Homo sapiens: one gene and its partners. The protein of the gene in region 1 interacts with the protein of each later gene in a biochemical or structural test. Each region holds a gene or a part of one and is shown on either strand. Other genes may lie near its edges.

Region 1 (3,500 bases):
AATTAGACCAATATCAGAATCTCCTCTCAATACAATAAAGAGAGTTGAGACTTGAATTTTCTTATAGTCTTAAATTTTCATTGTTATTTGATTCTGTGTTGTAAACACATTCTTCAATGACTATCGGCCTACCCTACTTCCTGATCCTCAATTACATAATTCTTGGTTTCCTTTACAGTGTTTTGTTTTGCTAACTTTAAGAAAAACATCTTTTTGTTGCACCCTTATCACTGTAGAAGTTGCTCATATCATTAAATGCTATGGCATGTTGCAGAATGTATAGATCTCCTCTGGATGACTTTCCAACTTATCCATCTTCATGCTTTTATGAAAAACATGTTCTTTCTCTAATAATGACTATCCTTACTTATGTCACAAAGATGCTATGAGGACAAATTTTATCATGTATTTTAAACACTGTGAATTCCTTAGAAACAACAACAAAGCACTATAGAGATAAGAGTTATTCTTCCTCTATTTATATAGATCCTGACAGGGAGTTAAGAGACCAGGTAAGTCAGATCCTTGGTAATCACAGCTCTTTTGAGCCTCCCTTTCCTCACTTCTAAAAGGTGGACATATCATCTGCTACATCTGGCTTAATAGTAGAACCCAGGACCCAAATGAGAAATGAATGTGAAACAGTAGAGCCTACGCTCTGTAAATAACCATCCCCAAAATTCACAGGGATATAGTTTTTAGAAAAGACTATCTCCAATGAAGTTATACTAGTGTGGATTTTAAAGAATTCAGGTAGCCACACCCGATTTTCTAATGAAATATAAAATGTCCCCTGAATTCTGATGTTATTGGCCAGTGAAAACAAATACTACTATATGATCATTTCGGCCAAGCCTTTGGAATGAAGGCCAAGAGGGTTTACCTGAATAATCTGGGCAGCAAGCTCCGGAGTTCCATACTTCAGGTCGTGCCCATTGATGGCCAGCACTCGGTCATTGCTGCTTAGCCTGCCGTCCTGGGCAGCCAACCCCCCTTCCAACAGGTCAAGAATAAAAACCCCTGGCTCATCTGTCCTTCGCACCAATTTAATGCCAAGCTGTTCACCAGAGTCCCGTTTATGAAGAGCCACTTGGAAAATCTCTTCTCGTGGAGAGTTACTATCAGAATGGTTGTGTGCTCGGTTGCCAAAGCGCCTCTCTCGAAGCACAGTAAGATGCAGTGTGTTGCAGGGCTGGGAAAGGACAGCTCGGGCATAGTTATGGGACACATTGCTGATATTGTAGTTGTTGACCTAGAAAAAAAGAATTGTGACCGAAGTGTGACAACCTTTTATTTTTCCAATTTGTAGGAATGTTTATGTGACATTTCCACAGGAAACTAAGTATTGTGAGAGTGCTAAGTATGGTGAGAATGCTATACAATCATTATTTACAAAGAAAACCACATTAAAGACATTTAAAAACAGAGTTTCTAATATTAACTTACAGTGACTAGCATCAAGGAGAGAATAGTAGCTAGGATCACGGGCTTTAATGACGGTCTTGAATTAGAGTCCTAGGTACTACCATTTACTAACTGATAACTTAGGCAAATTATAGAACTTGTCTGAATGAGTCTCCTCATCTGTAAAATGTGTTTACTTCATGGGATCAGTATGAGAATGAACAGATTAACATGGGGCAAGTGCTAATGAAATAAATACTAATTCTAGTGGAACAGAAATTTAAGTTTTACTAGATTACAAATTTGCTTCTTCCAAATTAAATACACTTAAGCTAGAGAAAATAAATTGTTATTTTAAGGAAAGTAGCACATTTCAGGTATACAAACTTATTTTAGATAAGTGACTTTTACCTGAAAGAAAACCAGGTTAATTGTAATTTCACTCTAATTCTTCAGCACAGAAATATTAGGTTGGTGCAAAAGTAATTACGGTTTTTACCATTAAAAGTAAAATATAATGTATATCTAATGCATTATTCAATACTCATATAACATTTATGTATTCACCTTTATAATCTCAAAAAAAGTATAGTGACTGATCCTTGGGTATGTAACAGCACTTAGAAAATACACCTAACTTCAATTATTTCTTTAGTTACAAGAGATGAGCATGATTCTTAGCATTTATCACAATTAGAGTTCTTCTCTGAATCGGTCTGAGATGAAACCAACATCCTCTGACCATCTGTTATATGACAGGCTCTGAGTTAGGTGTTTATGATCACCTAAAATTCTTACATCTTTTTCACACAAATCCACATTAGGCAAGACTTTCCTCTTCCTATTGACTTAGGATTGATAGTTGTAAATACTATTTTGAATTTTGTTGATTTTGACCTATTAACACCTTTCAGAATTCAGTCACCAAATGCACAGATGTCACACACAAACTTGCTTTCTCCCAAGTCTGCAACATCTATTAATTTGGTAGTCATCCAAGTCCTTGGTAAAAGTATTGAATAATACAGGGTCAAGAATGGAACTTCTGAAGTTCTATTATATTTAGAAAGCAGCTTCTAAAAATCCACGCAGATATAGATTCATTAGTCAAACCACCATTTCCAACTATTTAGCTACAAAGCTACCTACCTGTAGGTTCACATTTTTCTGTCTTATATTCAGACATATCACACATATCACAAATGACTTTACAAAACGTCTGGCTAAAATCCAGCCATGTGTAAACATGCAGCCTCATAACATCTTTGTGAAGCAGGCTGGGGAATATTCTACAACTGGAAAAAGATTTTTCCTCCAGGAATGCATGGTTGCCAGTGAAATTCAGAGAAAGCAGAAACCAAATAAAATATTGTTTCTAGATTTTGTAAAAATAACATCAGCATAGCAAACTATCTCATTTTTGAGCTAAATGTATTTTTTTATCAATCAACAGCTGTAATTATTTTCCTTCAGAACTGAAAATGCCATTATTGATGACTTCATTAAACTGAAAATACTTATTCTTAATAATGTTCTAAGTTATATTACTTTTATTAATGATATTGAGGTAATTTATAATAGCAGTATTTTTTTTTCTTCAAAACTGCTCAAAGAGGCTGCATATGAAACTCTAAGAGTAGCAAAAAGCTCTAACAGCATATGGTTCTCCTTTTCAAAGAGGCTATTTAATAACATTTGTATATGTAAATAAATATATATAAATGTGGGAAAACCACCAAAGCCACACACTGCTTATGTATATGGTCTGCAAAAATGAAAATGCAAGCTAGCTCTCTGGTCTGCAAATCAACCATCTTACTGCCTCTTCGAGATTTTCAAATTGGCTCACTGTGTTATATTTATTTAGCTTATACAAAGTTGGAGGTAACCAGATAGTAAAAAATACCAATAGGCCTCTTTCCAAGTGTTTACTCTTGAATAACCATAAATAGTCCATATGTGGGAAAGGGGGGTGGCTTTACTTGGCTCCAACACACCAGTTAAAAGCCAACCAGAAGTCAGGGCCTATAATAGGAGAGACCCTTTGTGAATTCATTAATCAGATTATGTGCTCAGACTTTTCTTATCAATTTGAA
Region 2 (4,108 bases), on another chromosome or scaffold:
ATATAGGCCCCAGAGTGGACCCTTTCCCAACACTGGCTGACTTGTTGGGGATGGAGCTGGATTTGGGATTAACCCTAAATCCCCTAGATTTGTACTCTCATGCTGACAAAACTACCTGAGCTCTCATCTGGCTGAGCTCTAGAGTGAGATTTAGGTGGCTTCGAATATTTTCTGGTAATGGCCGGGCATGGTGGCTCATGCCTGTAATCCTAGCACTTTGGGAGGCCGAGGCTGGCTGATCGCTTGAGCCCAGGAGTTTGAGACCAGCCAGGGCAATATGGGGAAACCCCATCTCTACAAAAAATACAAAGATTAGCTGGGTGTGGTGGTGCATGCCTGTGGTCCCAGCTATTCTGGAGGCTGGGGTGGGAGGATCACCAGAGCCTAGGGAGGTTGAGGCTTCAGTGAGCCATGATCACACCATTACACTCCAACCTGGGCGACAGAGTGGGACCCTGTCTTGAAAAAAAAAAAAAAAAAAAAGGATATTTTCTGGTAAAAGCAAACAAAACAAAGCCTTTTATCAGAGTGTCTGGGTTTGAATTCTGACTTCACTACTCACTGGCTGTGTGACCTTGAACCAGTTACTTAGCCTCTCTGTGTCTCAGGAATAATTCCTACTTCCTAGGGCTGTTAGGAGGACTAAATGACTTAATATTTGCAAAGCAGGTAGAATAATGCCCAGTGAATTGTACATGCTACATAAATAAAAGAAGAAAAGCAACTATTTAATTGTAACCAACGTTTGAAACCAGCATTCGCTGGCCATTCACTCACTGCCCCACATTCATCTGGAATTTATTGAATGCCTACTGAGTTTATTAGGCCAGGCATAAAGGGCAAACACCCCACCATCTAGTAGGAACAAAGGAAATAAAAAGACTTTTTTAAGGAAAACATGATCATTCTAAACAGAGATTTGCACACAATTCTATGAAAGGCCAGAAAAAGAACATTGATCTATTTCCGCGTAAACCTGAAAAAAAAAAAAAGAAAAGAAAACACCCGCAGTTCAGTTCTTTGAATCCATTTAAAAGACTGAATTTGGTCTAACTGGTTTGTGCATTTAGACCAGGCTTCGGTACACGCGAGCCTTTTGGAAACTATTCCCATTCAGTGCCAACTACTCGACCTCTCTGGATGTTTTTCTTCTACCTTCCTCACCTGTCTGTCTCCTCGAACGCCCAGAAAATAATCTGAGTTCATCCCTAGCCCTCAGGTAACGGATGGGGGAGGGGATGTGGGTTCAGTAAGACCAACCCTTGATCATTTTAAGAATCAATTTATAAATATTTGGGGAGGGGCAGGATTAGAGAAAAATCTCAGTAACTTGTAACGTCTCAACTAAGGAAGCAGCAGCTGCTGCATTTAAAAATCTTGGTGGTTTAACTCAAACCACTTGGTAAGCCGGTATACGTACAGTTGGTTTAATAACTGATGGAAAAATGAAATTCCGCCAATCCGCACCCCTCCCCCAAATCCACCGAAGTCTCTTGAATGTAATCGCTCTGAATGCCCTGAGCCGGGTCAAGCTGGTGTCTATGTTTGTGGCTGGAGCGGACCCTGCGGAGTCCCGAGCCCCGGGTGAGGCGATGCCCAGACTGGCGCGAAGCGGGGTGTCCCGGCAGCAGCGCAGAGGCCCACCCGCCTCTCCGGCCGGCTGCAGCGGGCGCGCCTATACCCTGCAAAACCAAAACGCTCTGGAAAGCGCTTGGGGCTGCAAGTGACGCCTGACACGAGCGGCGGGCCGGACTGCCGGCCTCCCGGCCCTTCCCTGGCTCACACAACCCGCGGGCCGCCCCCACCGCCCACGAACTTCAGCGGGCAGACGCTGGACGTGCGGTCTGGCTACTTTCCTAAACTCCAGCGCCCGATCCGCGTCGCAGGGTCGGCCGCGCAGCGCGGGGATCGCGGGTGCCCAGGCTCGGAGAACGAGCGTCGCGCTCCCAGCCGCGGTCGGGGAACAGGAACTGCCGCCAGAGGCACCGTCTCCTCCCCCGAGACTGCGATATTGATCAAGGGCTCGCAGGCGCGGGCGGCATTCATCTCTCCGGACTCGCAGCTCGCCGCGGAGGGGAAGGGGCAGGACGCGCTCCCAAGACTAGGGCGGGGGCGTGCGGAGTCGGGGAGCTGTTTGGGGGCGCTGGGGCGAGGTGGGAACCCCGCTTCAGAGTCTCCAGTCCCGGGGCCGAGGTCTGCAGGAAGGGCGTGGGAGGTGGAACCTCCCCTCCCCTAGGCGTCTGCCCGAGAGCCTAGAGCGATTCTTGGCGCGGAGCCGGCTACCCGGGTGGGCGGACCCCCTCCTCCGCCAACATCCCGGCGGCTTCGCCACGATTTCTTTTCTCACCTGAGTCTCCCCCTGCCTACCCAACCCTGGCTCCAAAGGTCCAGAGAGTTAGGCTGCCCCGGAGCCCAGCCTTCCCCGACCTAAGCACGGCTCTCCCAGCGCCCCCGCCCCCATCACACCCACAGCCCAGCCCCGTCCCGCGTCCGCCAGGGGCCGGGGGCGCCAGCGCTCGAGGGATGGCCGGCGGGCTGTTACCTTGACGAGACGGAGCTGCGGGTGCCCTCCCATCCTCGGGCTCGCTCGGCTACCGTCCTGAATGCCCGGGTCCTACGGACATCCCAGAGGGACCGGCGGGCGGCTGCGGGCTCGGGCGGCACGGGGTGGGCGGCCGGGCTCCTCGGTCGCTGCCTGGTGAGGAGATGCCCGGCTCGGCGCTTCCCGGCCCCGCGGCCCGGCCCGGCCCGGCCCGGCTCTCGCTCGCCCCTTCCCGGGGAAGTCTGGCCGCCGTTTCCCGACGCAGCCCGGCCCGCGGCCGCCTCTTGCCGGCCTCGCCCCCGCCACCTCCCCCACGGTCCGCGCCGCTCCTCGCCTCGGCTCCCCGCCCCCTCGCCCAGCTCGTCCCCTCCCCTTCCTCCCCCTCCCTCTCCCCTCCGCTCCCCTTCGGTCCCTCCTCCGCGCCTCGCCCCTCGGCTCCCTCCCAGCTCCTCCTCGCCTCCTCCGTTCCCTCCCCTTCCCCCGGCCCGCTCTCTGTGTCCCGCCGCCAGGATCCCCTTTCCCTGCGCCCGGGGTTTGCGGCAGTCCTCGGGGCGCGCTGGCAGCAGTGGCGGCCGCCGCAGCCCGGGGAGAAGCCGGGAATGGGGGAAGGGGGCCGCGGTAAAGGATCAGCCTCCCGCCCGGCCGAGGTCGGGGCCTGGGAAGTCCCAGGGATCTGGGGTGACTTGGGCCAGGGTGCTCAGGTGAATTTATGAGGGCGAGGCTATTGGGGGCTAGGGAACAGGGCGGTCCCTACTGAGCGGAGCCGCCGCGGAACCCAGTGAGGCTGCGACCTGCGTTTGGGCAGTTCCCGCCCTGCGGCTGGCTAGGAGGAGCTCCTCGCCGCCCCCATTCCAGCCGCGCCGGGCGCTGGGCCCGACCCCCAGCACCTTTGGCACTGATGTGCCTGGTGCGCGCTGAGACGCGAACGCTCTGCAAGATGAGCCCTTATTCATTCGTTCCTTCTTTCCTTCATTTGTTCATCTTACAAACTGAGTGCCTGGCCACTTTGGTTCAGGCAAGAGGCTGGATCTGGGAACCCTTTGGACCTGGGAGCCCCAGGATGAAAGGGAGACGGCGGTGCCCTGCAGGACAAGCGGGCACTGAACGCTGCCCAGGGGAAAGCCGGGCGCGCATTGCGTTGCAGCGCGGCGAACGCTGCTAGGAGCCCGCGGGCAGGGCGTGGGGAGGACACAGCGCCCCCTCCCGGCCGGCCGAGCCCTCTGGGCAGCGGTGGGCCTCCCCGCCAGACCCCGGGGCCGTCTTCTGAATTGGCTTCGGAGCTCCCCATCCCAGGAAGCAACTCCCAGCCCTTCCAGATGAACAGAACTTTTGACTTCCTCTTCACTCTTCCTCTCTCCTACCAGAGCTGAAAAGGGAGAAACTGGGAGGTAGAGAAATCTTCACTCCACCCGCAGAGCCTAGGCCGCCTGGCCAATGCAGCCCCTATTGGGTACACCAGAGCACCTGGGGCGGCGGGCAGTCGGCTTTGAAATCAAACTGAACCCACCTGCCCTGCACCCTGTGCCCTGCCGTGCCCACCCTACTCCTCCCTCCTGCCCTCTTCTC
Region 3 (2,749 bases), about 15 Mb from region 1:
TTATGTTCTTACAATCAAGAATTCCTTCACCAGATGCGAGACTACTCAGCAATAAGAAGAAATGAACTATCAATACACACAATTTAGATGAATCTCCAGGGAATTATTCTAAAGTGAAAAAAAATCGCATACTGTATGATTCCATTTATGTAATATTCTTGAAATGATAAAAGTATAGAAGTGGTTGCCCGGGGTTAAGAAGTGTGTGAGGGCAAGAGGGAAGTAGGTATGCCTATAAAAGGGAAACATGAGGGATCTGTATTACGGGTCCTTGTGGTGATAGAACTGTTCAGCATTGTGACCTTATGCATCTCAATGTCCTGGTTGTGATACTGTACTACAGCTTTGCAAGATGTTACCTTTGGAGGGGAAATGGGTAAAGGGTACACGAGCTCTCTCTGCATTATTTTTTACAACTGCATGTGAATCTACAATTGTCTCAAAATTAAAAGTTTAATTTTAAAAAAGATTTCCCACCAGAAACAACGTAGACTTCACACTTTCTTCAAATGCATTCTTTTTATTTGAGAAGGATGATCTCAAGGCAGTGCCCTTTGGGAAAGATGTCTTTCATCATCATGTACATCAGGATCAACCATTACTTTCAGCAAAGTACAAAAATACACACGTCAGTGACTTCCGTACAATAAATACATAATCATGCATCCCACAATAAAAGGCACCGAAAACTGGTCACTTAGTAGTCATAAAAATTACTAGCTACATTAACAAAGCCACCAAAATTATCTGTACAAGGAAATGTAACAATATATTCCAAAGGTGAAAACACATAAAACATCTTTAAAATAGTAGGCAATAAATATCTCAATTGTATATATTTTTAAAATTATGCCATTGTAAACAGCATGTAAACAAACAAAACTCACGTTGTCTTACCATTACTAAAAGTAATTAGAGCCAAAGTTATAACCTCTGCTCTGTCAGGTATATTTCACTGGCAAGTGTGCTAAGCAGTTAAAAGTTTCACTCTTTTCTGCAGCAAACAGAGCCCACTGTGTAATAAATAGATAGATATTATCTGCATCTTTCAGACACAAGTGCTTAGTTTCAAAACAGACTACCAAAATGTAGTAAATTCCTAACTATAAATAATACGGCAAGGCTAAATTTAAAATACCTTTTCCAATGTAAGGGACAAAAGGAACTATACTGTTGTGTTTTCAACATGATAATAAACAAGAGGCAAATGATTTCTGGTTATCTTTATCGAAAGATAAAATGAATGTGCTGAATGTCAGGGTAAAGTGTCCAATCTTTTGAGCCTCCTCCTTTTGTGGACCTTGTACAAAGTCAAACAAAGAGTAAAGCTGTATCACACTAAGAATTTTCTTTTGCTAGAGAACATAGAAATGGATGATACTTAATACTGATGGAAAACAATGACTTCAAAATATGCCTATCAAACTGTGAATACACATACAAGTCGGGTTTTTTTCCACACTTACTGACAATAAAGATACAGTTTTTTCCTTCTCATGAAGGAACCCTATTGCCTAACCATCCATAAATATCTAGAGAATTTTTTAGAACTAAAAATATTTTTGTTTCACCTATGTATTAGTGCCTCATGGCACACAAGTACTAGTAATATTTACTATATGCTTAGATACGTATGCTACCTGTTAAATATTACCGCCTACTCCTCATTCAAAATAATCAAGGAAACATCAACGCACATCTTCAAATGGAGCCTCTGAAGTATACCAGAAAGCATTACTTTTTCCCTTCTACTGTGGGTTTACCATGCACAGCTCTTATATATTTTGGTGTGTGTGTCATCAAAAGGCATATATGCCTTCCCAAAATAAACTTTAAATGTGAGTTCACATTCTACAGATCTATCAGTCACTGGGATCACATGTACGGCTGTGGAAATAGGATTGATGAAATATGTACTTGACAAAACAGTCAAAATTATTGGTGGCTGATACAAAAATGTAAAAATTGTGGACATAAAAATGGGATTACCTCTTTATGATAAAATAATTTGGTTAGTTTTTTTGGGTGGAAGGAGACTCCTCTCTGAAGTAACCTGAAAAACACTCGGTTTATAAAAGTCCTCCTAATACCTTAAACAGACTGTGGAAAAATAACTGTGAAAACAAACTTGGACTCTACCAGATGGGAGCTTTGTCTTATTTTATCTGTATCCCCAGAATCTAATTGAGTGCCAAGTATAGAGCAGGTAGAAAAGTCTATCAAGTGAATGAAGGAACAGGGCATTTCAGTTAATTACAATTATTTTGATTTTTTTTCTTTTTTTTGAGACAGAGTCTCACTCTGTCGCCCAGGCTGGAGTGCAGTGGTGCAATCTCAGCTCACTGCAACCTCCGCCTCCTGGGTTCAAGCAATTCTCCTGCCTCAGCCTCCCGAGTAGCTGGGATTACAGGTGTGCATCACCATGCCTGGCTAGTTTTTGTATTTTTAGCAGAGATGAGGTTTCACCATGTTGACTTGTCTCGAGCTCCTGACCTCAGGTAATCCACCCACTTCGGCCTCCCAAAGTGCTGGGATTACAGGTGTCAGCCACCACACCTGGCCCTGATATTTAATTTTAGAAATTATTAACTTGGAAAAGCTTTCTGTGTTAGCCTTTATGAGTATTTGGTGATATGGTAGAAAGGCTTTATCTAATCCCAAAGAAAAACAGGCCCAGAGGTAATAGTTTTTATTTTTAGTCTTTATATTCTATAGAGGGTGATAAGAGTCACAAGCCTTCTTATGTTTA
Region 4 (2,687 bases), on another chromosome or scaffold:
ATCTTTACTAAAAATACAAAACTTAGCTGAGTATGGTGGCTCATGCCTGTAATCTCAGCTACTCAGGAGGCTGAGGCAGGAGAATCGCTCGAACCTGGGAAGCGGAGGTTGCAGTGAGCCGAGATTGCTCCATTGCACTCCAGCATGGGCAACAAGAGCAAAACTCCGTCTCAAGAAAAAAAAATAATAATAAAAAATAAAAAAAAAATATATATATATATATATATATATGGTTACAAACTCTGTTGTCAATCTGGGCTGGGCCCGGGGCTGGAGGGACTGCAGGGAGGGAGGGATGGTCCCTCATCCCACCCCTCAGAGTCCCTCCTCTGCACCCAAACCCAACACCATCCAAGGGCCAAGGTGGCTGGCGTTGAGGGCCTCAAGGGGCCAGCCAGCTGGGCAGGGGAAGGCGCTAGGCTTGATGGGCTGGGTGGGGAGGGGTGCACAGAGAGGGACTGCATCTCCCTGTCCAGCAGGTAAAAACGGCAGAAAGTGAATTTGGTGTCTCCATCTGTCTCCATTTATAGATATTTACAAAAGAAAGTCATGAGCAACAGGCCACAGTCATGCAAAAGAAACGCACCCCCCCCTCCCCAAACTAACCCCCTGCCCACCCTGAAACCCCGAGATGTCCCCCGCCCAGCAGTCCAGCCACCTTCCCCAAGGTTCTGAGAGCAAAGAGGGCACGTCCTTGAAGAGTCAGTGGGGGAAGGGTGGTGGATCCGGGGACCTAGAGCCACCAGAAGTAGGCGCTGGCGGAACTCAGGCTGATCGGGGCCGAGCTCTTCCCAGGCCTGGGTGCTGGAGTCAGGAGGAAGGGGTCCCCCAGTCTTTGAAACCCCCACCTTCCTCCAGAAGGTCCACGGAGCCAGGGTTGGCTCTGTCCTGAGTGTGGGAGGGGGTGTCCTGGCATCCCACCCCCGGCAGAGGCTCTTGTGGGCAGTGGTGAGGGCCGGGCCTGGAGGTCAGATGGCAGACTCCCTGCGGTAGGAGATGTTGTCCAGCGGGAGGGAAGCCTGCATGCGCTCCAGGTCCAGGTGGCTGCCGAACTCCAGCATCCGGATGATGCCCGCCTCCTCCTTGGAACCCGCCTCCAGGCCCAGGCCTGCGGCCACCGCGGCCGCCGCAGCTGCCTCCTCCTCCATCTCCTCTTCCTCCTGGCTCATAAGGGCCAGCTCGTTCTCGTAGCAGAAGGCACTGGGAGGGGGCGGTGGGGCGGGCAGCACGGTGATCTTACTCTCCTGCAGCTCCCGGGCCGAGCAGCAGGGCGTGCCGGCCACCTCGTAGGTCTTGTGAAAACGTGAGTAGTCCACCTTGTAGTGGCTCTTCTCCTCGAAGACCACAGGCTCAAAGCGGTGGCCCCACAGGATCTCGCTGGCCAGGTAGGAGCTGCGGGCCTGGGTGGTCATGGCCGTGGCCTCCACCATGCCCTCCAGGATGACCACGATCTCAAAGTCCTCCGACTCCAGCTCCTCCTTGCCCATGCCATAAAGCGGGCTGTCCTCGTCGATCTCGTGGACAATGATGATGGGCGACACCAGGAAGATGCGGTCCAGGCCGATGTCATAGCCCACGTTGAGGTCCCGCTGGTCCAGGGGCAGGTACTCGCCCTCCTGGGTCATGTAGGGCTTGATGAGCTGGGCCCGCACGTGGGCCTCCACAATGTGGCTCTTGCGCAGGTTGCCCACGCGCCACATGAGGCAGAGCTTGCCGTCGCGCACCGAAATGACCGCGTGGTGGCTGAACAGCAACGTCTGCGCCCGCTTCTTGGGCCGCGCCATCTTGGCCATGATGGTGCCAATCATGAAGGAGTCGATGACGCAGCCCACGATGGACTGGACCACCACAGCGATGACTGCCAGCGGGCACTCCTCTGTCACGCACCGGAACCCATAGCCGATGGTCGTCTGCGTCTCCACCGAGAACAGGAAGGCACCCAGGAAGCCGTTCACGTGCATGATGCAGGGCTTGGGGGCCACCGGGGCTGCTCCGCCACCACCCGCCGCCGGGCCCCCCGCCGCAGGCACCCCTGGGCTGGCCTCCAGGTCACCGTGGAAGAAGGCGATACACCAGAAGAGGAGGCCGAAAAAGAGCCAGGAGACAAGGAAGGCCGCGGAGAAGATCATGAGCATGTAGCGCCAGCGCGTGTCCACGCAGGTGGTGAAGATGTCCGCCATGTAGCGCTGCGACTTGTTGCTCAGGTTGGCGAAGTACACGTTGCATTGGCCGTTCTTCTTGACGAAGCGGTTGCGGCGCTTCCGCCGGGGCACGTGGGCCTGGCCGTTGCGGCTGTGTCCGTGCATGTCCTGAAGCCGGCGTGGTCACCTGGGAAGACGCAGGGCCTGCGGAGGAGAAGCCGGACAGGTGAGATGCTGGGGAGCGAGGGGCTCCCTCGGGGCCACTCAGACTCAGCCCCAAGACTCTCAGAAGCAGGTGAGCCTGGACCAGGACCTAAGACTTCCTCTGCCCCGGCAGGCGGAGGGTGGCAGCAGAGGTGGCTCTGATGACAGGGTCTGAGCCAGTGCCACCCAGTCCGGCCCAGCTTAGAGACTGGGGTCCATAGACCAGGAAGCTAAAGCCACAAGGATCCAGGTCCTAGTCCCTGCCCCTCAACACTGCCCCTCCGGCCCTCCTATGCTCACTGTTCTGGAAGCTTCCTGATGCCCATCTTGGTTCCTCCCTGT

Evidence for each region. Proteins that work in one complex are often made in the same cells at the same time.
Region 2: the proteins of LNX2 (region 1) and CRHR1 interact in a test that uses a peptide from one of them, tested with the Homo sapiens proteins (one large-scale study listed by IntAct).
Region 3: the proteins of LNX2 (region 1) and DGKH interact in a test that uses a peptide from one of them, tested with the Homo sapiens proteins (one large-scale study listed by IntAct).
Region 4: the proteins of LNX2 (region 1) and KCNJ4 interact in a test that uses a peptide from one of them, tested with the Homo sapiens proteins (one large-scale study listed by IntAct).

The regions. Positions count from the first base shown.
Region 1 is NC_000013.11:27,561,530-27,565,029, forward strand, and holds part of LNX2 (ligand of Numb protein X 2), read right to left. Parts: intron 1,253-3,500; coding exon 884-1,252; intron 1-883.
Region 2 is NC_000017.11:45,783,012-45,787,119, reverse strand, and holds the start of CRHR1 (corticotropin-releasing factor receptor 1 isoform 2 precursor), read right to left. Parts: upstream 2,801-4,108; 5' UTR 2,576-2,800; coding exon 2,543-2,575; intron 1-2,542.
Region 3 is NC_000013.11:42,240,648-42,243,396, reverse strand, and holds the end of DGKH (diacylglycerol kinase eta), read right to left. Parts: 3' UTR 501-2,749; downstream 1-500.
Region 4 is NC_000022.11:38,425,827-38,428,513, forward strand, and holds the end of KCNJ4 (inward rectifier potassium channel 4), read right to left. Parts: intron 2,346-2,687; 5' UTR 2,307-2,345; coding exon 969-2,306; 3' UTR 501-968; downstream 1-500. UniProt on the Homo sapiens protein: Inward rectifier potassium channels are characterized by a greater tendency to allow potassium to flow into the cell rather than out of it.